3 separate regions of the Homo sapiens genome follow, and regions 1 and 3 are each linked to region 2. The links come from fine-mapping of genetic effects on gene expression. A gene starts in region 2. Each other region holds a variant in brackets. All regions are shown on one strand. Distances are from middle to middle. Region 1 has its middle 12 kb from the start of EIF2S2. Region 2 holds the start of AHCY (adenosylhomocysteinase). Region 3 has its middle 32 kb from the start of BPIFB1.

The links. PIP is the estimated chance that this variant, and not a neighbour inherited with it, causes the effect.
Region 1: its variant is fine-mapped to the expression of AHCY in whole blood (TOPMed, PIP 0.97).
Region 3: its variant is fine-mapped to the expression of AHCY in prefrontal cortex (CommonMind, PIP 0.95).

The regions. Positions count from the first base shown.
Region 1 is chr20:34,120,030-34,128,210 of GRCh38, reverse strand. It overlaps the pseudogene RPS2P1. Among named protein-coding and RNA genes, the nearest start is that of EIF2S2, 12 kb to the right of the region's middle. RefSeq lists a silencer at 3,448-3,517. The variant C/T (reference allele first, on the strand shown) is at 4,240.
Region 2 is chr20:34,300,177-34,308,357 of GRCh38, reverse strand. AHCY (adenosylhomocysteinase) reads left to right here and starts at 5,003. Exons shown (of 10, transcript NM_000687.4): 1 at 5,003-5,115. The coding sequence starts at 5,088. RefSeq lists enhancers at 4,639-4,758, 4,779-4,828 and a silencer at 5,399-5,628.
Region 3 is chr20:33,311,075-33,319,255 of GRCh38, reverse strand. It overlaps the pseudogene BPIFB5P. Among named protein-coding and RNA genes, the nearest start is that of BPIFB1, 32 kb to the right of the region's middle. RefSeq lists enhancers at 6,585-7,085, 7,086-7,586. The variant G/T (reference allele first, on the strand shown) is at 4,966.

The DNA.
Region 1 (8,181 bases), 180 kb after region 2:
ACAATCGCTAGATTTATGTTTAAGCTTACATAAACACCTCAGTGCAGTAAAGAGTAACAGAGCAGTATTGCCGCCATGATGTCTCATCTCCAGCCATAAGGAGGTTTTCTCCTATCTCAGTAAATAGAATGTATGGTCGGGTTTTACACCGAGACATTCCATTCCCAGGGACGTGCAGGAGACAGATGCCACACTCTTATCTCTACCGCATAGAGGCCTTCCTATTTCACTAATCTCCTTAGCACAGACCCTTTACGGGTGTCGGGCTGGGGGGCTGTAAGGTCTTTCCCTCCCCACGAGGCCATATCTCAGGCTGTCTCAGTCCGGGGAAACCTGGACAATACCCAGGCTTTCTTGGGCAGGGGTCCCTGCGGCCTTCCACAGTGCATTGTGTCCCTGATTAATAGAGAATGGAGAATGGCGATGACTTTCACAAAGCATACTGCCTGCAAACACATTTTTTTTTTTTTTTGAGAAGGAGTGTTGCGCTGTCGCCCAGGCTGGAGTGCAGTGGCACGATCTCGGCTCACTGCAAGCTCTGCCTCCTGGGTTCATGCCATTCTCCTGCCTCAGCCTCCCGAGTAGCTGGGACTACAGGCGCCTACCACCACGCCCAGCTAATTTGTTGTATTTTTAGTAGAGACGGGATTTCACCGTGTTAGCCAGGATGGTCTTGATCTCCAGACCTCGTGATCTGCCCGCCTCAGCCTCCCAAAGTGCTGGGATTACAGGTGTGATTTTTTTTTTTTTTTTTTTTTTGAGACGGAGTCTTGCTCTGTCACCCAGGCTGGAGTGCAGTGGCTCAATCTCGGCTAACTGCAAGCTCCGCCTCCCAGGTTCATGCCATTCTCCTGCCTCAGCCTCCCGAGTAGCTGGGACTACAGGGGCCCGCCACCACGCCTGGCTAATCTTTTGTATTTTTAGTACAGACAGGGTTTCACCATATTAGCCAAGATGATCTCGATCTCCTGACCTCATGATCTGCCCGCCTCGGCCTCCCAAAGTGCTGGGATTACAGGCATGAGCCACTGCGCCTGGCTGCAAAAACATTTTTAACAAAGCACATCCTGCACAGCCCTAAATCCCTTAAAACTTGAGTCAATACAGCACATGTTTTTGTGAGCACAGGGTTGGGACAAGAGTTACAGATTAACAGCATCTCAAAGCAGAACAATTTTTCTTAGTACAGATCAAAATGGAGTTTCTTTTGTCTTACTTTTTCTAGATAGACACAGTAACAGTCTGATCGCTCTTTCTTTTCCCTATACATTTTGAGTTGATTTTTTGCGTATGGTGAGAGACAGGAGTTTAGTTTCATTCTTCTGGATATGGATATCCAGTTTTCCCAACAACATTTTTCCCCAATGTATGTGCTTGGTACCTTTGTCAAAAATCAATTGGCTGTACGTGGATTTATTTCTGGGTTCTCTTTTTGTTCCCTTGGTCTGTGTTTTTATATCAATACCATGCTGTTTTGGTTATTAGAGCCTTGCAGTATATTTTAAATTCAGGTGGTGTGATGCCTCTAGCTTTGTTCTTTTTGCTTAGGATTGCTTTGACTATTTGGACTTTTTGTTCCATACAAATTTTAGGATTTTTTTTCTGTCTTTCTTGTTTTACTAGAGCAAATCCTCCAGTGCTTTCCTAAGAAAAGTTATGTGGGGATGAGGGGTAAATTTCTGATCCTTGCATGCCTAAAAATATACTTATTTATTCCTCATACTTGACTGATAATATGGCTTAGTATAGGAGTTCTAGATTGAAAACGTATTTTCTCTCAGAATTTTGAAAGCCTCCCTATATCGTCTTCTAGCCACTAATGTTACTATGGACAAAAATGCTATTCCTATTACCTGCTCTTTCATAAGTAACCTGTTGCCCTTTCCCTGCCCCCTCCTCACCTCCTATCACCAAGATTTTTGATTTTCTCTTTATCCTTTGTGTTAAAAAATTTCATGATGATGTGCCATAATGTTTTTCCTTTGTTTTGTTTTCTTTCATTATGCTGGGCACTCAGCAGGCTCTGCCACTCTGGAAACTCAGTTTCTTTGATAATTTTCTTCCATTTCTTCTGTATTTCCAGAACTCCTGTTAATCTAATGGTCGACCTTATGGATTCATCCTCTAATTATCTTTTCTCTTTTATTTTTCCATTTGTATTTCTGTTCTACTTTCTGAGAGATTTCCTCAACTTTATATATTAAGACTTATATAAATTATTTATTTTTCTATTATTATTATTTGAGAACAGGTCTTGCTGTATTGCCCAGGCTGGAGTGCAGTGGCATGATCATAGCTCACTGCAGCCTCCATCTCCTGGGCTTGAGCAGCCCTCCTGACTCAGCCTCCTAAGTAGCTGGGACCACATGCATGAGCCACCACAGCTGGCTAATTTTTTTTCTTTTTTTATTATTTATTTATTTATTTATTTATTTATTATTTTTTTGAGATGGAGTCTCGCTCTGTTGCCCAGGCTGGAGTGCAGTAGTGTGATCTCGGCTCACTGCAAGCTCTGCCTCCTGGGTTCATGTCATTCTTCCGCCTCAGCCTCCCTAGTAGCTGGGACTACACGTGTTCGCCATCATGCCCGGCTAATTTTTTGTATTTTTAGTACAGATGGGGTTTCACCATGTTAGCCAGGATGGTCTCGATCTCCTGACCTCGTGATCCGCCCGCCTCGGCCTCCCAAAGTGCTGGGATTACAGGCGTGAGCCACTGAACCAAGCCTAATTTCTCTTTTTAAAAGAATGTTTAGCAGAGAAGAGGTCTATCTAATATTGCCCTGGTTGGTCTTGAACTCCTGGCTTTAAACAATCCTTCTACCTTGGCTTCTCAAAGTGCTGGGATTACAGGCATGAGCCATAATGCCCAGCCAATTTTTCTATTATATTTTTAATTCCCCAGAGCTGTTACTTACTCTATTTTTTTTAGAGCATTTTATCTTTGCTTTATGGATGCAGTATTTTCTATTATCTCTCATAGACTGCTTATTGTTTTTTAAAAATATTTTTCTGTTCTCTTCAGTTTCTGTTCCCTTTGAGTTTCTTTTTTCTCTATTTGATGCTGTCTTTCCTGGTGGAGGTTTATCTTAAATATCTGGTGACCCTTTGTTGTCTCTTCATATTTAAGAGTGAGTCACTAAGTATTTGGAAGCTCTGTGTTAACAGGAAGTTTATCTGTAGGATGATAAAGTGGGTACCTAGGTGTTTTGTTGGGGGACCTCAAATATCAGTATGTATAGATCTTTCCTCTGGGGTTAATTAATTAAAATTAATTCCCTGATATCTTGCCTGGAGAATACAAGCCTTGCTGTCAGCATTCCTGGAATAAATTTCAGCAGGAGGACTGAGTGCGCTTCACCATTCAGCATGTAGACAATTCATCTAATCTCTGTTTTCAGTCTGAAATCCTCCTACCTTAGCCTCCCTGCTATTATATCTTTAGCTGTGCCTGGTATCTCAGTGTCTGGAACTTCTCTACCTCAATTTTGTCCCAGGGGCTGCTAGGGAGATGAAAGGGTAGTTGTCTAAGTGAGTAGGATGGAGAAAAAGACCTGGCAGTTTCACTTCCTATAAAGGCTTTCAGCCAAACCCTCTCTCTTCTGCCTCTCACATCACCTCTGATCTGCTCTGTCCCAGTCCTGACATTCTAGTGTTCTGCAGTACGAATCTGTTTGTCCCTTGTTAGTATAACCCTCAGCAAACATTTAGAATTGTTTTCTCAGCTCAGCTATGGTTTTCCATCTTCCAAAAATTTGTTGATATCCTTAATCTGCTATTGATTTCTTTCTTATTCTCTTTGTCTGTAGACTGGTAAACCTAAAAATGTTAACTCACTGTCACTTCAGTGATTTGGGGAGTGAACAGGGATAAACATATGTGTTTAATCTGTCCAAGCATAAACAGAAGTGCAAGACTGTCAAGATGTCCACTCTTTGCTCCTATTAAAAAAAGTTAGAACCAGAAAATTCATAGATATGGCTGGGCGAGGTGGCTCACGCCTGTAATCCAGCACTTTGGGAGGCCAAGGCGAGTAGATCATGAGGTCAGGAGTTCAAGATCAGCCTGGCCAAGATGATATAACCCCATTTCTACTAAAAATACAAAAATTAGCCAGGCACAGTGGCAGGCGACTGTAATCCCTCCCAGCTACTTGGGAGGCTGAGGCAGAAGAATCGCTTGAAGCTGGGGGACAGAGGTTGCAGTGAGTCAAGATTGCACCACTGCACTCCAGCCTGGG[C/T]GACAGAGTAAGACTCCGTCTCCAAAAAAAAAAAAAAAAAAAAAAAGAAAATTCATAGGTAAAATATAGATAAAATTCTACTCTCATAGGCCAATGTGGAAAAAGTAGGAGTCTGAGAGTTGCGGTACATGTGTCCAAGCCCTGTTATTATCATTTACTGGTCTGAAGCTAGGTAAGTTAAATTTTCTGACCATCTGTTTCCTCATCTGTAAAGTGGTGATAATCATCCCTAGATAGTCTATCTTACTTGTAATGATGAAGTAAAATAATTGATATAAATATATAAACATCAAATATATATCATTTATCATAAACTCTATTAGAAGTAGGCACAGTTAAATATATTTTCAGAGGCACTGTAACATAGTAGAAATAATATGGGCTTCAGATTCACACAGACTTGGGCTCAAATTCCATCTCTGTTACTCACTGGGTTATGTTGGGTAAGTGACTGACACTCTCTGAGCCTTCATTAACCTGTTTATAAAATGGGTATAATACTTTTAACCTGACAAGGCTGTTGTTGAGTATTAAATGAGATAATGCATGTAACATCTATAGGGCCTGACACTTAGTAAGTACTCAACAGATATTAATTCTTCCATGTTGGCCCCTAATTTGAGACCAGCTTTTTTTTTTTTTTTCAGGCTTAATTCAGTTTGTTTTTCTTGTATAAAAACCCTATGCTGTAGCCACAGCTGGAGCCTGGGTCCTCTGCATGGAGACTCTGGTGTGGGTCTTGACGAGGTGGTCAGTGAATTCCTGATAGGGAGACTTGGTGAATATAGTCTCCTTCCAGAGGTCGAGGGTCAGGTAGCTGTAGGTCTTAGAGATGGTGTCAAAGGTGGCCTTGGCGAAGTTGCCAGGGTGGCAGTGCAGCCCCTGGCTGAGGTGTGGCAGTCATCAATACCAGCCATCATGAGGAGCTTCTTGGGCACAGGTGCGGAGACGATGCCAGTGCCCCTGGGTGCAGGGATGAGGTGCACCAGCACAGAGCCGCAGCGGCCTGTCACCTTGCAAGGGACGGTGTGGGCTTGTCCATCTTGTTCCCCCGTAGCCTCTGCGCACGGGGACAATGGAGTGCTTGGTCAGGATGACGGACCCGCGGATGGCAGTAGCCACCTCCTTGGAGCACTTAACGCACAGACCGACGTGGCCATTGTAGTCCCCGGTGGCAACAAACGCCTTGAACCTGGTGCGCTGGCCCGCGCGGGTCTGCTTCTGCACCGGCATAATCTTCAAACCCTCTTCCTTGAGAGAGGACCCCAGAAAAAAGTCAATGGTCTCAGATTCCTTGATGGGCAGGGAGAAGAGACATCCTCCAGGTACTTGATCTTCATGTCCTTGACCAGGTGGCCCAGCTTGGTGACGGGCATCTACTCCTTATCCTCGGCCTTGCCTCTGCGAGCTCCATGGCCTCGGCTCCGGCCCAGTCCACGGCCATGACCCTGGCCCCGGATGCCACCGCCGAAACCTCCGCGGAAGCCACCGCGGTTCCCCATCCCTCCCAGGGCTTGCGGGGGCCTCCGCCCGGCCTCCGCCCGGCCTCCACCCGACCTCCGCACCCCACGCCCTGCCGCCCCCTGCACAGGCGTCATCCGCCATTTGGGGATTTGTTGAAGAAGAGCTTTTTTATACTAACATGAAAATCCTGAGCTTGTATTTCATTAGTTCATGCTAAACTACATTGATAATTAGCATCTTAGATCATAAATAGTCCTCATAAAAGTTTATTTATTTGCTGTTTTCCCAGGACCAAATTATAAGGTGAATAGCCCAAATTAAAAGGATTCCTCATACAAGACCTTTGAAGTCAACTGGCTATTGCTGAGGCATCTTTAGCATTTCATTATGAAATAAGATGTGAAACTTGTAACAAATATCAAGAGATCAGAGGCTCTGGAATATTGAGAACAACTACAACTCAAAAAATTATTTTAAACGTTTGTTTTTTTTGGTTTTTATTTGATCCTCATACAAATCTAGACTCCACAGTCTTTTTTATCCTGTTTAAAGATGAATTAACAGAAACAATGAGTAAAGAAGCTTCCTTTACTCAACTTCCTTGAGTACTTCCTTGAGTTTCAAGGAAGTCTCAAATTCCTTGAGACTGATCTATCTGTGGAAAACAACCAAGAACTCCAACCTTGGTCTTTTGTCTCCCAGTTTAGTGCTCTCTTTTTAAAAAATATGGTAAAATACAAATACCATAAAATTTATCTTTTCAACTATTTTTAAGTATATTCACATTGCTGTACAACCAATTTCCAGAACTCTTTCCATCTTGCAAAACTGGAACTCTGTACCTATTAGACAACAACTCTCTCTTCCCCCCTCTCTCCCTAGCCCCTAGCAACCGCCATTCTACTTTCTCTTTCTATGAATTTGACTATTCTAGGTACCTCAAATAAATGGGATAACACAGTATTCGTCTTTTTGTGGCTAGCTTATTTCACTAAGCATAATGTTCTTGAGGTTCATCCATATTGTGGCATGTATCAGAATTTCCTTCCTTTTTAAGGCTGAATGATATTCTATTGTATGTACACACCATATTTTGATTACCCATTCATCCACTGATGGACACCCGGGGTGCTTCTCAGGTATGAATAATGCTGTTGTGAACATGGACATAAAAATATCTCTTTGAGACACTGCTTTCAGTTTTGTTTTGTTTTTTTTTTTTTTCTGAGACAGAGCTTCGCTCTTGTTGCCCAGGCTGGAGTGTGATGGCACGATCTCAGCTCACTGCAACCTCTGCCTCCTGGGCTCAAGTGTTTCTCCTGCCTCAGCCTCCTGAGTAGCTGGGATTACAGGCGCCGGCCACCATGTCTGGCTAATTTTTTGTATTTTTAGTAGAGATGGGGTTTTACCATGTTGACCATGGCTGGTCTCAAACTCCTGACCTCAGGTGATCCGCCCACGTCAGCCTCCCAAAGTGCTGGGATTACAGGTGTGAGCTACCATGCCCAGCCCTTTCAGGTTTTTTTTTTGTTTTTTTATTTTTATTTTTTAAATATACGTAGTAATTGAATTGTTAGATTATATGGTAATTCTGTTTAAAAATGTTTGAGGAACCACCATACTCTTTTCCATAGGGCTGCACCATTTTACAGTCCTGCCAACATACACAAGCGTTCCAGTTTTTCCACATCTTGATAATATGTGTCATTTTCTGGAGGTTTTTTTTTTAATTAATAGCAATTCTACTGGGTGTAAGGTAGTATCTCATTGTGGTTTTCTTAAGAGTTTTGAAGTCTTCTGTACAGATGGCAAGATACTAAGTAACCTTGGATAACATCATCAAAAAACATTCATATTCTTTTTTTTTTAATTGATTTTTTAAAAGAGAACAGGGTCTTGCTGTCACCCAGGGTGGAGTGCAGTGGTGTGATCATAACTCACTGCAGCCTCGAACTCCTGAGCCCAAGAGATTCTCTTGCCTCAGCCTCTTGATTAGTTGGGGCCACTGGCACATGCCACCATGCCCGGCTAATTTTTTTTTAATTACTTTTTTGTAGAGACAGGGTCTCACTATGCTGTCCAGGCTGGTCTCAAACTACTGGCCTCAAGCAATCCTCCTACTGTGGCCTCCCAAAGTGTTGGGATTACAGACATGAGCCACTGCACCCAGCCTCAACAAATGTTTACTGAGCTCCTAATAGGTGCTATGCACTGTGCTGGGTACTGGGGTTATAAGTCTCTTAAGAGCAAGGGAGAAAGATGGGCAATGAATAGTGACCAAGGTGCTGAGTGTATACAAGGTACACTTAATTACTTCTTACTGAAAGTCTGCTAATCTTTCAAGAAGACTATCAGGTGCTTTTATGGCTCACGCCTGTAATCCCAGCACACTGGGAGGCCGAGGTGGGAGAATCACTCGAGGCCAGGACTTTGAGACCAGCTGGGGCAACACAGTGAGACCCCCATCTCTACAATTTT
Region 2 (8,181 bases):
GCTGGCCTTGAACTCCTGACCTCAAGTGATCCACCTGCCTTGGCCTCCCAAAGTGCTGGGACTATAGGCCTGAGCCACCACACCTGGCCAAATCTTTTAAAATTTAACAGGTACTATTCACAATAGCAAAGACATAGAGTCAACCTAAATTCCCATTAATGGTAGACTGGATAAAGAAAACGTGGTACATATACACCATGGAATACTATGCATGCATAAAAAAGAACAAGATCATGTCCTTTGCAGGAACATAGATGCAACTGGAGGCCATTATCCTTAACAAACTAACCCAGGAACAGAAAACCAAATACAGCATGTTCTCACTTATAAGTGGAAGCTAAATAATGAAAACACATCAACAGAGAGAGGGAACAATGGACATGGGCCCTATTTGAGGGATGAGGGTGAGAAAAGGGAGAGGTTTAGAAAAAAAAAAACTTAGGTGCTGTGCTTCGTACCCAGGTGATGAAATAATCTGTACACCAAACCCCCAACTCACCAGTTTACCTATGTACCAAACTGGCACAGGTACCCCTGAACTAAAATAAAAGTTAAAAAATTTTTTTAATTTAATGGGTGACAAAACTTTGCCATACACTCACCAACAATGAACATTATCATTTGTAATTAAACCTTTTATTTTGAGATAATTGTAGATTCATGTGCAGTTGTAAGAAAACACAGGGGGCTGGGCACGGTGGCTCACGCCTGTAATCCCAATACTTTGGGAAGCCAGGGCGGGCGGATCACCCGAGGTCAGGAGTTCGAGACCAGCCTGACCAACATGGAGAAACCCCATCTCTACTAAAAATACAAAATTAGCTGGACACGGTGGCATGTGCCTGTAATCCCAGCTGCTCAGGAGGCTGAGGCATGAGAATTGCTTGAACTTGGGAGGAGGAGGTTGCAGTGAGCCAAGATTTTGCCATTGCATTCCAGCCTGGGCAACAAGAGCGAAACTCCGACAAAAAAAACAAAAAACAAAAAACAAAAAAACCTCAGCATGTTGGGAGGCTGAAGCAGGTGGATCATTTGAGGTCAGAGGTTCAAGACCAGCCTGGCCAACATGGCGAAAGCCCATCTCTACTAAAAATATAAATATTAGCCGGGTGGTAGCGACATGCACCTGTAATCCCAGCTACTCAGGAGGCTGAGGCAGGAGAATGGCTTGAGCCTGGGAGAGGTGGAGGTTGCTGTGAGCCTAGATAGCAGACCCTGTCTCAAAAAAAAAAAAAAAGAAAAAGAAAAAAGAAACAAAGAAAACACAGAGAAATCCCAATGCCCTTTGCTCGCTTTCTCCCAATGGTGACATCTTGCAAAACCATAATAAAACATCTCAACTAGGATACTGACAATGATAAAGCAAGATCCAGAACATTCCATCACCACAAAGTTTCCTCATGTTGCCCTTTTACAGCCACATTTACCTCTCTCTTGCTCCCGTCCCCTACCTAATACCTGGCAACCACTAATCTGTGGTTCATTTCTATAATTTGGTCATTTCAAGAATATTATAGAAATGAAATAATATACTATGTAATATATTGGAATTGGTTTTTGTCACTCAGCATAATTCTCTAAGGATTCATCCAGGTTGCTGCATTTATCAAAGTTTATTCCTTTTGCTGAGTATTATTTCATGGTATGGCTGTACCAATTTGTTTAACTGTTCATCCATTAAAAGAACCTGGCTGGGCGTGGTGGCTTACACCTGTAATCCCAGCACTTTGGAAGGCCAAGGCGGGAGGATCACTTGATGTCAGAAGTTCAAGACCAGTCTGGCCAACATGGTGAAACACCGTCTCTATTAAAAATACAAAAATTATCCGGGTGTGGGAGCGTGTGCCTGTAATCCCAGGTACTTGGGAGGCTAAGGTACGAGAATCACTTTGAACCTGGGAGACAGAGGTTGCAGTGAGCCGAGATCACACCATTGCACTCCAGCCTGGGCAACAGAGAGACACTCTTTCTCAAAAAAAAAAAAAAAGAAGCTGAAATAATAGGAAATTGGCTATATCAATTGCAATATATCCATAGGCTAGAACATTCTGCTGCTAGAGAGGTTGCATAAGGCCAGACTAAGGTGCTTAGACCTTCTCCTGAGACCAGCAGTCTCCAAAGTTTTGTTCATATGAACTTAACGGTACAAATATTAGCAAATATCTCATTAGCTGATATCTCAAAGCACGATATACAGTGAGGATGAGAGTCATCATTAATTAATGAGAGGGCATGTAAATTCACATTTCTTTTTTTTTCTTTTTTTTTTTTTTTTTTTGAGGCAGTCTTGTTCTGTCACCCAGGCTGGAGTGCGGTGGCGCAATCTTGGCTCAATGCAACATCCGCCTCCTGGGTTCAAACAATTCTTGTCCCTCAGCCTCCTGAGTAGCTGAGTTTACAGACGTGCACCATCACGCCCGGCTAATTTTTGTATTTTTAGTAGATACAGGGTTTCACTATGTTGGCCAGGCTGGTCTGGAACTCCTGACCCCAAGTGATCCACTCGCCCCGGCTTCCAAAGTGCTGGGATTACAGGTGTGAGTCACTGCGCCTGGTCCGTAAATTCATATTTCAAAGTGTCTTTTTCATTGTTTTCTCAAATTTTATTACATTCCTTACAACATGGCTGACAAAGACCAGCATTCATACCAGAAAGAGACCTGTCAGCTGTGTCCTTTTCTACTTGTTTGCTGTGCTGGTAATTTTCACAGTATCTGGAACTTGCCATTTCTTTGCAGGAATATTTTGAAGCCATTTTTCTGTTCTCGTAGGACAACCTAGTAACATGATCCTACGTTTAGTTAGACTGACACGACTCACTACACACTGCAATGCACTGCAGAATGCTGAAAGGGATGCGTGAGGACCCTGCTGCCCACCTCCCAGGCGTGGACCCTCGTTCCCTCAGGAAGTCTCTGCTTGACATCGGCCCTCATGACTCTCAGACAGAGGTCAGATGTACAGATCAAGTGAGACCAATACATTTACTATGTCATAGAAGACCTTAATTCTTATTTTTATTTTTTATTTTTTGAGACAAGAGTCTCCCTCCGTCGCCCAGGCCGGAGTGCAGTGGTGCGATCTCGGCTCACTGCAAGCTCGGCCTCCCGGGTTCACGCCATTCTCCTGCCTCAGCCTTGCGAGTAGCTGGGACTACAGGCTCCCGACACCACGCCCAGCTAATTTTTTTTTTTTTTTGTATTTTTAGTAGAGATGGGGTTTTACCCTGTTAGCCAGGATGGTCTCGATTTCCTGACCCCGTGATCCGCCCGCCTCGGCCTCCCAATGTGCTGGGATTACAGGCGTGAGCCACGCGCCCGGCCAGAAGAGTTTAATTCTTTTCTCATTTTTAGGTTAAAAAATGAGTAGAGGCCGGGCACGGTGGCTCACGCCAGTAATCCCAGCACTTTGGGAGGCAGAGGCTGGCGGATCACCTGAGGTCGGGAGTTCGAGATTAGCCTGACCAATATGGAGAAACCCCGTCTCTACTAAAAATACAAAATTAGCCAGGCGTGGTGGCTCATGCCTGTAATCCCAGCTACTCGGGAGGCTGAGGCAAGAGAATCGCTTGAATCCGGGAGGCAGAGGTTGGTGTGAGCCAAGATCATGCCATTGCACTCCAGCCTGGGCAACAAGCGCCAAACTCTATCTCAAAAAAAGAAAAAACAAAATTAGCCAGGTGTGGTGGTGCGTGCCTGTAATCCAAGCCACTCGGGAGGCTGAGGCAGGAGAATTGCTTGAACCCGGGAGGTGGAGGTTGCAGCGAGCCTAGATGGTGCCACTGCACTCCAGTGTGGGCGACAGAGTGAGACTCCATAAAAAAAAAAAAAAATTCAGGGGAAAAAAAGCAATTAAAAAAACATAACTATAAAAATAATACAAATTACAAAACAACCATTTGCATAGCATTTACATTATATTAGTTATAAGTAATCTAGAGATGATTAAAGTGTACGGAGGAATGTGCATAGGTTATATGCCAATACTGCCTCATTTTATATGAGGGACTTGAACATAGAAGGGTTTTGGAGTCCACAGAGGTCCTGAAACCAATTTCCCCTTCCCATGCCTGGGATGACTGAATTATACAGCAGCAAAAATGAATATACTCAAGCTATATGCATGAGTCTCATAAATATAATGCTCACAGAAAAAAGCAAGTTGCAGAAGGGTAAATACGGTTGATATATAAAGGTGCTAAACACAGAACTATTTAATGATATACGGATGCAGTAAAAGTATAAGAAATGTATGCAAACTTACTTAAATTCAGGGTGTTGGTTACTTGGAGTAAGGCGAATGTTTGGGATGTCAGTAGGTACCTGACAAATGGCAACTTAACTTTGTTTTGGTTTTTTTGAGATAGGGTCTTGCCCTTTCGCCCAGGCTCAAGTGCTGTGGTGGGATGATAGCTCACTGCAGCCTCGATCTCCAGGCTCAAAAGATCCTCCCTCCCGCCTCCGCGTCCCAAGTAGCTGGGACCACAAGCGCGCGCCACCACGCCCGGCTAATTTTTAATTTTTTTTTGTAGAGTTCAGGTCTCACTGTGTTGCCCAGGATGGTCTTGAACTCCTGGGCTCAAGCGATCCTCCCGCCTTGGCCTCCCAAAGTGCTGGGATTACAGGTGTGAGCCACCGCGCCTGGCCTGCAACTTTACTTATAATAATCTGTGTGGCAGATGTCATTTGGCCCATTTTACAGATGAGGAAATTGAGGCACAGGGAAGTGAACTGGCGGAATTTCAGTTCCGCTGGGTTTTGACACTGAATCAACTGGCTGAACCAGCGAGAGGACGGCCCGGCTGGCTCTCAGGCCTCTCCCGGCGCTCCCTTCCGGACCGGTGAGTGAGACTCCTGGGGCCACGCCTTGTGAAATTCTGAGGCTTCTTTTCAGGGATCGAAATCCCCTCCGGCTCCGCCCTGCGCGTTGGGCCCCGCCCCAGCGGGTCATGAATATGCAAGTGCGAGGAAGATATTTAAAGGCGTCGGCGCCACGCGCATATCCCTGCTCGGCGCTGCCCGCCCAGTTCCTGTTCCCAGACTGAGGCCCAGCCCCCTTCGCCCGTTTCCATCACGAGTGCCGCCAGCATGTCTGACAAACTGCCCTACAAAGTCGGTGAGTCCCAGGACCTGCAGCCGGTTGCGGCCGCCCGGCACCCGCCCGGGGCTTGTTCGTGGCGGGGGCTGCAGGGCCGACTCGGGGCTCTCTGGACCCCCTGGAATCGCAGCCTCGGCGCGTTTCTGGCCGCGCGAAGCCAGCTGGAAGTTGGAGTTCTCGCGCGGCCATGAGCGGGCCGTTCCGGGTGGCCGTGGACTACAAGTCCCAGCATGCCCCGCGACGCCGGGGCCGCCGCGCGGTCTGCGAGCCGCAAACTGGCGGCGTGCTCCGCGGGAGAGCACACCTGGCCACGGCCTGGGACGGCTGGCACCTGCCGGACCCTGCTCGGGGGGCCTGCGCCCGGCCTCCTAGGCCTGGACCGGACCCTGTCCAGCTGGGCGGCCCCGACGAGCGTCCACCCCTCTCTGGGCCTCCTACAGGGACGGCGAGGGCACCCCGGAGGGTGTATGAGGAGAGGCCTGGAAAGCGAGCCCCAGGCCGGCTCCGATCCTCCTCTCCCCTGGGACTTTGGGCCAGTTACCCAACCTGTGGGGTCCCCCACCCCTCCAGCAGGGGCAGCCTTGCAGAAATCTCGAAGAAAATTTGGAGTGGTTTGAAAAATCCTGCTGTCCCACCGATTGAAGTGTAATACAGGGATAGTTAACGTTTACTTAGTGTTTCCTGTGGGATCGGCACTGCCTTCTAGCTTTATTCTAGTCTCATGGCTCTATAGGGAAACTGTTCTCATTTTATGATGAGAATCCTGAGGCAGAGGTAACTTGCCCTCAGTCTTACAGCTGGTGGTGATGGAGCAAGATTGGAACGCAGGCCATCTAGATCTCTGAGCGCACCCTTTCACCACTGTGTGCAAGCGAATACACGCGGAACAATCCTAGTGAATTTTCAGCAAAAACCAGTTCAGTTTGGCTGGTAGCTTTTCAAGTAACTTTGACACTATTGGACCGGGTGTGGTGGCTCACCCCTGTAGTCCCAGCACTTTGAGAGGCCGAGGTGGGCGAATCACTTGAGGTCAAGAGTTCGAGACCAGCCTGGCCAACGTGGTGAAACGCTATCTCTACCAAAAATACAAAAACTAGCTGGGCGTGGTGGCGGGCGCCTTCATTCCCAGCTACTCGGGAGGCTGAGGCAGGAGGACTGTTTGAGCCGGGGAGACGGAGGTTGCAGTGAGCCGAGATTGCACCACCACGCTCCAACCTGGGCAACAGAGCAAGACCCTGTCTCAAAAAAAAAAAACAAACAAAAAAAGACACTATTAAGTCTGGAGAATGCCATCCACATTTATGGAAACACTTGCTGTATATCTGGTGATTTACGTGTGTTTACACAATAATCTTCATAGAGGTGGACGTAATCCCGTTATATAGAGCATGAAACTGAGGCCCTTGGGAGGTGACTTGCAAAGATTCTGTTGAAGTAGTTCATCAAGTTGCTACCAGAGTAGACTGTCTCCATTGTGTGGATGCTGAAACTGAACCCAGAAAGGTTATGTGAAGGTCACATCAATAGTAGAGCTGGAATGGGGGCTTGTCATACTGTGGAGAGATTAGTGGGTCAGGATTGGGGCCATTGGGTTGTGTGGGTGGAGATAAAGCTGGATTTGGGGATGGGGAGCTTAGCTGGGTGGGGCTGGAGGAAGGAGGCCCTGCTGTATGCCAGATCTTGATCATATGGCATTATCTTTACTTAAGGCGCATAGCAAGCTAGGGATGATTATCCACACTTTACAGATGAAGAAACTGATGTTTACAGGGGCTCTTGCTGTTCCTCTTGGCTTGTCCTGGGGACAGGTGTTCCTGTGACTTTTGCAAGTCCTTAGCTCCAGAGATTGCAGCATCTAGCCTCTCCTGTGCCTTTGGAGTTGAGGGTCCCAGGGAAAACTGTGGGGCTGGCACAGTGTCCTCGAGGGCACTGAAGGAGTTATTTTTAGCTGGAGGGACATGTGGTGGTGGAGGGGTGGAGCTTAGCAGCACAGGGCATAACCCATTGTCCCATACAGCCGGGCCCCTCCCAGGAGGGGCCTTGAGAGGGGCCTCTGCTCTAGCCCTGCCTGGCTGCCAGTTCTGGTTCTGCGGTTAATTGGCTATGGAACCTGCAGCAAACTCCTCTCTGGGTCCTCTCTGGGTCATTAGTAAATGCTGGGACTCAGACTAGGTTCAGATTTGTGTTGTTTTTCTTTGCCACCCTTGTCACGTGCCAGCCCCTCTCATGGATCTTTCATTCAGTTCTGAGGACAGATATGGTCGGTAAACAGTTGCTGACCCCTTCTCTGAGCCAGGTCATGCTGGAGACACAAAGGTGACCCAGAGACAGGGGTGGCACAGACATGCATACAGATAAAGTAGTATTGTCTCCATTTTATGTGAGCAGATCTGCCACTTGTCTGTCTCCACGGTCACCACCCCAGTCTGGTCTCTCTCCTTGCAGGTCTCCCTGGATCTCTTGCTCCGCAGATCCACACAGCAGCCAATGGGGTCTTTTCAAAAGACAAATCTGGTCTCTGAATGCTGGCCCCTGAAAACTGTAGGTTCCCCACTTCACTGGGACTGAAGTCCCAACTCATCTTATGCCTCTATTTGAGTCACCCTGGTGCACTCTTGGTTCCTCTAGCAGGGATATACTAGGTTCTTTCCTGTTTCCAGGTTTTTTTCAGCACCTACTGTGTGCCAGGTACTGTATTAGGTGCTTGAGAGGAGCCTTCCAGGCCGAGAACTGCTTGGGTTAAAGCCCTGAGGTGGAAATGAGTGGAGCTTGCCTGAAGTCAGTCAGGAAGCCTGTGTGTTGAACAGCTAGTGAGTGGGGAAAGTGGAGAGATGGAGGAGGGGCAGGCAGTCATGCAGATAGGGCCCGAAGATTGAGGGAAGCCATTGGAGGGTTTGCTTGTTTAGTTTTGTTTACTTTAGTAGAATGATGGAGGTGATGTAACTTAAATTTTTAAGAGCCTCCCTCTTCTGGCTGCTGTGGGGAGAATGGCATGTTAGAGCATGGGACCAGTGAAGAGAGTGTGGCAGTGTCCAACTGAGAAGTGGCAGTGTATTTATTTCTTTATTGTTTTTTTTGGAGACA
Region 3 (8,181 bases), 990 kb after region 2:
TTGAGATGGAGTCTCAGTCTGTTGCCCAGGTTGGAGTGCAGTGGTGTGATCTTGGCTTACTGCAACCTCTGCCTCCCAGGTTCAGGTGATTCTCCTGCCTCAGCCTCCCAGTCAGCTGGAATTACAGGTGCGTGCCACCACACCTGGCTGATTTTTGTATTTTTATTAGAGACTGGTCTTTACCATGTTGACTAGGCTGTTCTCGAACTCCTGATCTCAAGTGATCCACCCGCCTTGGCCTCCCGAAGTGCTGGGATTACAGGTGCGAGCCCTCTTGCCTTACCTGGAGGTTTTGTTTTGAGACAGAGACTTACTCTGTTGCCCAGGCTGGAGTCGCAGTGTCACAATCATGGATTGCTGCAGCCTTGAACTCCAGGGCTCAGGTGATCCTCACACCTCAGATTCCAGGGTAGCTGGGACTACAGGCACGCGTCACCATGCCTGGCTAATTTTTGTATTTTTTGTGGAGATGGGGTTTTATCATGTTGCCCAGGCTGGTTTTGAACTCCTAGGTTCAAATGATCTGCCCATCTTGGCCTCCCAAAGTGCTGGGATTACTGATGTCGGCCGCTGTGCCTGTGACAATATGTTTCTGTTGTCCAGGGTGCTCAGTTTGTATTAATAGTACTTTGTTATGGCAGTCCTCACAATCTAATACAATTGGGAAACCCAGATTTTGATTAAAATCTTCTTGATTTTTATATGTTGGCAATTCATTAAAAATATTTTTCAAAAACCTATGTAGGTTTGCAGAAAACCCAGTTGTAGGCTGAGTGTAGGGAGCAGGAGGGCTGCCGGGCTGAGGTCCCAGATTGAGACCCTACTTTCTTCCTAGGAAGATTTCAAGCAGCTTGGAGAGACATAGGGTCAAGAAAAGTAGACTTGCTTAGCACTTTCCAGGCTATAGAGAACCTCCAAAGACACCGTGCTGAGAACACAGCTGCTCAGGGTACCAGGAAAGGCCAGAGGCAGTCCTAGCCCTCCACTTATCCACCTGCCCTGAGTAGCTCCCACAGCAGGGGGAGGCTCTTCCCTGAAAGCAGTTCCCCGACCGACCTGCGACAGGTCCAGCCCACTGCTCTTCTTGGAGAGGCGTTTGCCTACAAAGGGCAGGTGGTCCAGGACAGCAACACCTTTGCTCCTGGCCCCTGTCACAGGCAGGCTGAGCATGCAGTCCAGGGTGTAGTGCTCTGAGAACAGGTCTGAACTGTCCGAGGATGCAAGCCCCGCTTCAGTGTGGGGCTGTACTGTTCATTCAACCTTTCACCAAATTCACTCAGTCATTTGGCAGCCAGCACTTACTGAGTGCTTACTCTCTCCTGGGCTCAAGGGACAGAAGCAGTGTGGCTCCTGCCCTCATGGAGTTTACTTCCTGGTAGGGAGAGAGACAAAAGCCGAGCACTCAGATCAGCAAGCAAGGCAATATTCCAGAGTGATCTGTGCAAAAGAAAAAATACAGTGGAGTCGGAGCATGACTGGGTGAAGATCTGTTTCTGATGGGGTGAAAAGGAAGCGCCTCTCTGAGGAGGAGGCCTCTGAGCTGAGGCCTGAGTGAGGTGGAGGAATCCATCATGCAGGCTGATCTCGGGGACAGCCATGGTGGCAGAGGGAACAGAACGTGCAAAGGCCCTGAGGTGCTGGTGAGCCTGGCGTGGTAGGAAACAGAAAGATAAGTGAGGCTGCAGCGTGGCGAGCGGGGATGGGGCTGGATGGATGACAAACAGCTCAGTCAGGAGTTAGGGACAGAGGCAGCCAGCCCTACAGACAGATGGGACAGCAGGCGCAGCACACTTGGATAAGGCCGCAGAGGAGACGTCACCAAAGGGCTGTGGGAACTCAGAGGAAGGAGAGATCCCTTCTGCCTGGGGAAATCGAGAGGAATTCCCAGAGGAGGTGGTTAGAACTTTGCGTTCAAGCATGGGCCCAGATGCACCAGGTTGAGCAGGAGAGAAAGGCATTTCAGGCCAGAGGAACAGCCTAGCACAGGAGGGAGCTGTGAAGTCTGTGGGGGTGGTCAGGGAAGGAGGCAGTGGAAGAGGCTGGAGATGCAGGGCCTTGAATGCCAGGATAAGGGGCTCAGAGGTTCTCCTGAGGGCACTGAGGAGCCATGGCAAGTGTTAGAGCAGGGGAGAGACAGGATCAGCTCTGGGTGAGGTAAGGTGAATTCTGTGGCAAGGGGGAGGCCTGTACAGGAGAAGCATTGAGCAGGGAGGTGGTGCCGTCTCCCACCCCTGGCCTTTCCTGAGTTCATGCCTCTGACGCTCACCCCTTAACATTTACCTGTTTCCCACTGATTCTTGTCCTCTGAAGGCAGAGTAGGTGCTGGGCCTTCCCCTGGGCCTGGGGCAGCAGCGTCCAGCAAGCAGTGACATCCAGAGCAGCAGCATTCTCTTGGCCAGGACCTGCAGACACAGAGGTGGGAGCCTTGACGTCCTCACCGGGGCCCTGTCACTGTGTATCTCCCAGCTCTGCCTCTCCTAGGACCATCTCTCCAGCTTTCCTTCCCTTGCCTCTGCCCCCAGCTCCAGATCCGCTAGTCCTCGAACACAGCCTGCACTTCCTGCCACTGTACATTTGTGCTTGTGGATCCCTCGGCCTGGAGTGCCCTTCTCCAGAGCGTGGGCTGGCTTCAAAGCTGGGCCCTGCCACTTCCTGAGGGTGGGACCTGAGCAAGTCACAGGACCTCTTCATGCCTCAGTTTTCTCATCTGTAAAATGGGGACAATTCTAGGTCGTTGTGAGGAATATGTTCCATAATATGTGCAAAGCACTTAGCAAGCAGTGAGTGCCCAACAGCTGTTAATATGGTTGGATGACATTGTGAGAGGTTAAAGGATGTATTACTTCCCCCTTTTTTTTGAGACAGGGTCTTGCCTTGTCACCCAGGCTGGAATGTAGTGGCACAATCTTGGCTCACTGCAGCCTCGACTTCCCAGACTCAAGGAATCCTCCTGCCTCAGCCTCCAAGTAGCTGAGACTACAGGAGCATGCCACTATGCACAGCTAATTTTTGTATTTTTAGCAGAGGCTAGATTTCGCCATGTTGCCCAGTTTGGTCTCGAACTCTTGGACTCAAGCGATCCTCCTGTGTTGGCCTCCTAAAGTGCCGCGATTACAAGTGTGAGTCATTCCTCATAGCCTAGCACTTCCTTTTAACACTGGAGGCTTCTGGATCTTGAGTTTGCTATGGGATAGAGGTTCTGGGGGAGGTGTCAGAGAGGTGGTAGCGGTAGGCACCTGGGGGGCTTAAAGCTACAGATCTTTACCAGCTAGCAGAGAAATATTCCAAACACTGCATTTGTACCACCAGTTCCTACCAGCAGAACCTCAGCCCTGCCACGTGTCTGAAAGGGCATAGCTGGGACCCCAGAATCTGCAGGCAGGGGCTGTCTGGGTGGGCAGGAGCATTCCACTAGGAAACGAAGCTTCTGGAACTGCAAGGCAGGGACCAGCCAAAATGCAGACATCTCTAGGGCAGATGTCACTATAAACAGGGCCCACAGAGGAGCTACCATTGCCCTCCATGCCATGCCCATGAAGAAGCCACCCAGAGGGTAGACGCTGCCCTTGAGCAAGGCGAGGAGACCCCTGAAGTGGCTAAGCCTACGCTGGAGTGCCTTAGAATGTCCTGGCATTGCCTTGAGTATCCAGTTTTTTGCTACTTGGTGGCACAGGATTTCAAAACAGTGACCAAATCGGATAACGGAAAGAGAATGGTTTTGTGTTTGTTTGCATACACAAACTGCTTTGTATTGATTGGGCTGTGAAATTTGTGCTTGTGGCATTTGCTCTTCCAAGCTGATGTCAAATGCATCCACTATTCATCCAACCAGCACTTAGTCAGTCTCTGTGTCAAACACTTTTCTCTATCAGTTCACTCAAGTCAGATCTCTTTCCCCCATTGCCCTCAGCACAGCACACTCATCTTTCCACCCTCTCCACTTCCTGGGTTGAGCCAGCCATACCGACCCTGACTTCTGGAGTCCATACTATGTGCCAGGCACCATGCTGAGGGCTGCACAAGCTTCATCGCATCATTGAGTCCTCACCCCAATGGTCTCAGATCATTGATATCAGGCCCAAGATACAGATGATGAAACTGAGGCTCAGAATGGAGAGATAACTTACCCAAGGTGACACAGGTAGTGAGTGGCAGAGCCGGCATTCCGGCCCAGGTTCGCCTGGTGCTAAAAATCTGTGTGCCACTTCACAACGTTTTTATAGGTGCTCAAGAAATATTTGAGAAATGCCCCGTTGACCTCCTTGGCCTTACATCTCCAAGAATGGGGTTATCTGGAATCTCTCCTTGGCCTCTGTCTCCAGCTTCCCAGAAAGACAACTTTTTTAACCTGAGCTCAGAAGCCCAGGCGGGTGGGTACCCGGGCAGGAAGTCCAGCCCCTTGGCCAGGCTTGCGGCTCAGAGGAGCTCTTCAGTGGAGGGAGAGGTCCTCTTGGCACTGGGTGGCAAGGGGCTTCTGGCCAAAACTGAGGCTGGAGGGGCAGGCCCTGAGTCCTGGACCAACAGGCTTTAGGGAGGAGGCGGGTGGGGCCCTGTGATTTTGAGAGTGGGTCATTTCCGTTTGGAACGTCCTTGGAGCTGTGGAGCCCTGGTAGGGACCCCAGCTCTCGGGAGGGGCCCTGCGGGGGCTCCTAGTACAGGATGTGGCAGTCATAGAACCCACGGGAGTGATTGTGTGGGGGTGAGGCAGAGGGAGGAGAGCAGGTGGGTGGCAAGGGCCAGGCAGGGGGGCTCTGGGGTCCACCTTCTGGTAGCCATTCTCTATAGTCTTTTAAAAAATTTTTTAATTTTAAAATTACTTTCAAGCTCTGCCGAGTCTCAGGACCTATGCCCTTTCTGTCTAGGTTGTCCAAGCCATCAGTTTTTGCTATGACGTGGTCACCAATGGCATGGTCTCTGCAGCCAGACAGGCCTGGGCTCAAACTGCCACCTTCAATCAGGAGCTGT[G/T]TGACTGTGGGCAAGTGGCTTTCTCTTCTGAGCCTCACTTTTCGTGTCTGTAACATGGGAATGATAGATCCATTTATGTCTTTTTGGTATGGTGAAGGTTCGTTAAGGCAACTCAGTACAGGGCCTAGCATATAGGAAGTGTTCAAAAAGTTATTTCTTTTAACTTCCATTTTATGGATGAGAAAACTGAGACTCAGAGACGTTAAGTACCTTGCTCTGGGTCACACAGCATGTCCATGATAAAGCTGGGATTTGAAATCAGGGCCCAGAGAGGGGTCTGACCACTCAGTGAAAGAGAAATTTGGTGTCACTATGCCACGCAGCTCCAAGACTCGGAGACCTAGCTCCCAACCAAACTGCTGTGCCAGGGTCCTTTGATGTGGGAATCCTGGCATCCCCACTGCGAGTGTGCACAGCTGGCTGTGTCAGCATTGACGGCTTCATTAATTGCTGTCTAGTATGGGCACCCCAATGGCAGGTGTGACTCTTCTCTAGGTGGATTTTGGATTTTTCACAGGGTTTCCTCCTGGGGTTAATGTCTTTCCCTTTCACAACTCAGAGGCATGGACAGAGCAGGTGTTAAACTGTGTTCTTTGGCTGGAGACCTGGGGCAGAGAGGCTGACAATGGAAGGGCAAGTTCTTTTTTTTTTTTCTTTTTTTGAGATGGAGTCTCTCTCTGTTGCCCAGGCTAGAGTTCAGTGGCGTGATCTCGGCTCACTGCAACCTCCGCCTCCCAGGTTCAAGTGATTCTCCTGCCTCAGCCTCCCGAGTAGCTGGGACTACAGGTGCGTGCCACCATGTCTGGCTAATTTTTGTATTTTTATTAGAGACGGGGTTTCTCCATGTTGGCCAGGCTGGTCTCGATCTCTTGGCCTCGTGATCTGCCTGCCTCAGCCTCCCAAAGTGCTGGGATTACAGGCATGAGCCACCGTGCCCAACCTGAAGGGTGGGGTCTAGAAGACAGCAGCTGTGCAGGAAGCACAAGGTCAATGGCAGCTCTGAAGTTCTCGTTTTGGCTAACCTCAAAAGCAAAGGGCTAGTGTCAGTATTAAGTTGCTGCATCAACCTAATATGACTTGGCAGCATAGATTAGATGGGATATTCTTATTTTAGAATCTCAGATTTTTTGGGTTAGAATATGATTTAAGAGTTGATAGGTCCCCTTCATTTCTGCAAACTGGGTCTCAATATTATTGTGAAGGGCTGTCTTCCTTCTGCCAAGGGCAGAGAAAAGCTCTTGGGTTAACTGCTCACCTGAGTCACCAGGAAGGCGCAGGGTGTTAGTGGAACCACTGAGGTCTTCTTTCCTTCCCAAATCTGGTCTCTAAATGAAAAAGACCGGAGCCCCACGGCCTCCATATGCTTACCTCATTGACTAATCTCTGCTGAGAGATGGGAGGTTTCATGGGGGTGTCTTCCACAAAAGGGAAGCCCTAGGCAGGACACGGAGATGGGCAAGACACTGTTACTGCCTCTCTCTGAGCCTCAGTTTATTGATCTGTAAAAGGGGAATGCTCAACTCACAGGAAGTAGATAACACTGTGCTGGGAGCAGAGGCTGCTGGTTGTTACCGTTATTTTGAAGAAAAAGAAAACTGGGGCCCGGCGCGGTGGCTCATGCCTGTAATCCCAGTACTCTGGGAGGCCGAGGCGGGTGGATCACTTGAGGTCAGGAGTTCGAGACCAGCCTGGCCAGCATGGCGAAACCCCGTCTCTACTAATAACACAAAAATCAGCCGGGCATGATGGCGCATGCCTGTAATCCCAGCTACTCGGCAGGCTGAAGCAGGAGAATTGCTTGAGCCTGGGAAGGCGGAGGTTGCAGTGAGCAGAGATTGCACCACTGTACTCTAGCCTGGGCGACAGAGTGAGACCCTGTCTCAAAAAAAAAGACATAAAGAAAGAAAGAAAATTGGATCTATAACCTGCTGTGGATTCAGCTGGGAGGCTCAGGGCAAAGTGGGTGAGGCCTGGGTTCCCGCCCCAGCCCCATCACATCACCAGCTGTTTGTTACTTCATCTCCCATCTGTAAGACAAACACAGTACTAATTCCTGCAAGGCACGATGATTTAATGAGATCTCTTGGTGTTTTCTCTTTGCTGCTGCTGCTAAGACAGCAGGAAATTGAGGAGTTTTCCTCCCGCAGCCCAGCAAGGCAGTGGAGTCGTGGAATTCCCAGCCTGGAGGAGCCTCAGCAGTTCATGGAGGGTGGTTGTGTTTCAAGGCCCAAATCAGGAGGCTGGCACAGGAGAACAACCCCTCTCTTTTTTTGGGGGAGGTGGAAACCCAAGTGGGTAGGCGATAAAGGAGCAGAGAGAAGAAGGAGGTGGTGTGGGGTAATAGTTGGGGGCTGCTTGGGAGTGGTGCAGAGTTGTCAGAGCCTTGGTTTCTTCATTTGTCAGGTGCAGGTGTGGGGGGAGCCTGTGCCACAGGCGCTGGGGAAGGTGGCGTGACCAAAGGTCTGGAAGATCCTTAGAATAGTGCCTGCCTGGAGCAAATGGCTATCTTGATTGAGGTTCACCAGAAGCAGACCCTGAGAACAGGATTGGAGTGCAGGTAGTTGATTTGGGAGATGACCCCAGGGAACACTGGTAGGGGAGTGTGGAAGTGAGGTGGGGAGGTGAGGCAACCTATAAAGAGCATATTGGGCCGGGCATGGTGGTGCACATCTATAATTCAAGCTACTTGGAATGTTGAGGCAGGAGGATAACTTGAATCTAGGAGTTTGAGGCTGCAGTAAACTGAGATTGTGTCATTGCACTCCAGCCTGGGCAACAGAGCAAGACCTTGTCTCAAAAAACAAAACAAAACAAAACAAAACAATACAAAACCAAACCAAACCCCAAACCACACCCCCCCCACCAAAAAAAAAAACTGTGTCAGCACGCTGGTTATCAGCATGGACAACTGGGGCCCAGTCCCGCTGGTGAGCTGGGAGCCTGTCTACAGCAGGTGTCCTAGAGTTGTTCCCTCCCCCAAAGGGTGAGGAAGCCAGGGTTATGTATCTGCTGACCCCCAGGAAGCCCCAGAGGGTGTGGGTGATGGGACGCGGAGGATATACGGCTCGGGCTGTTTTGGAGAAGGATCCCTGTGCCCCGCTTGGCTGGGGTGGAGGAGCTACTTGACTCTGACAGGGTCACGTGGACTGGGACAGGGATCCCTTCATCAGGACCAGGTGGGACCCAGACTAGAGGGGCTACTCCATCCTCCAGGCT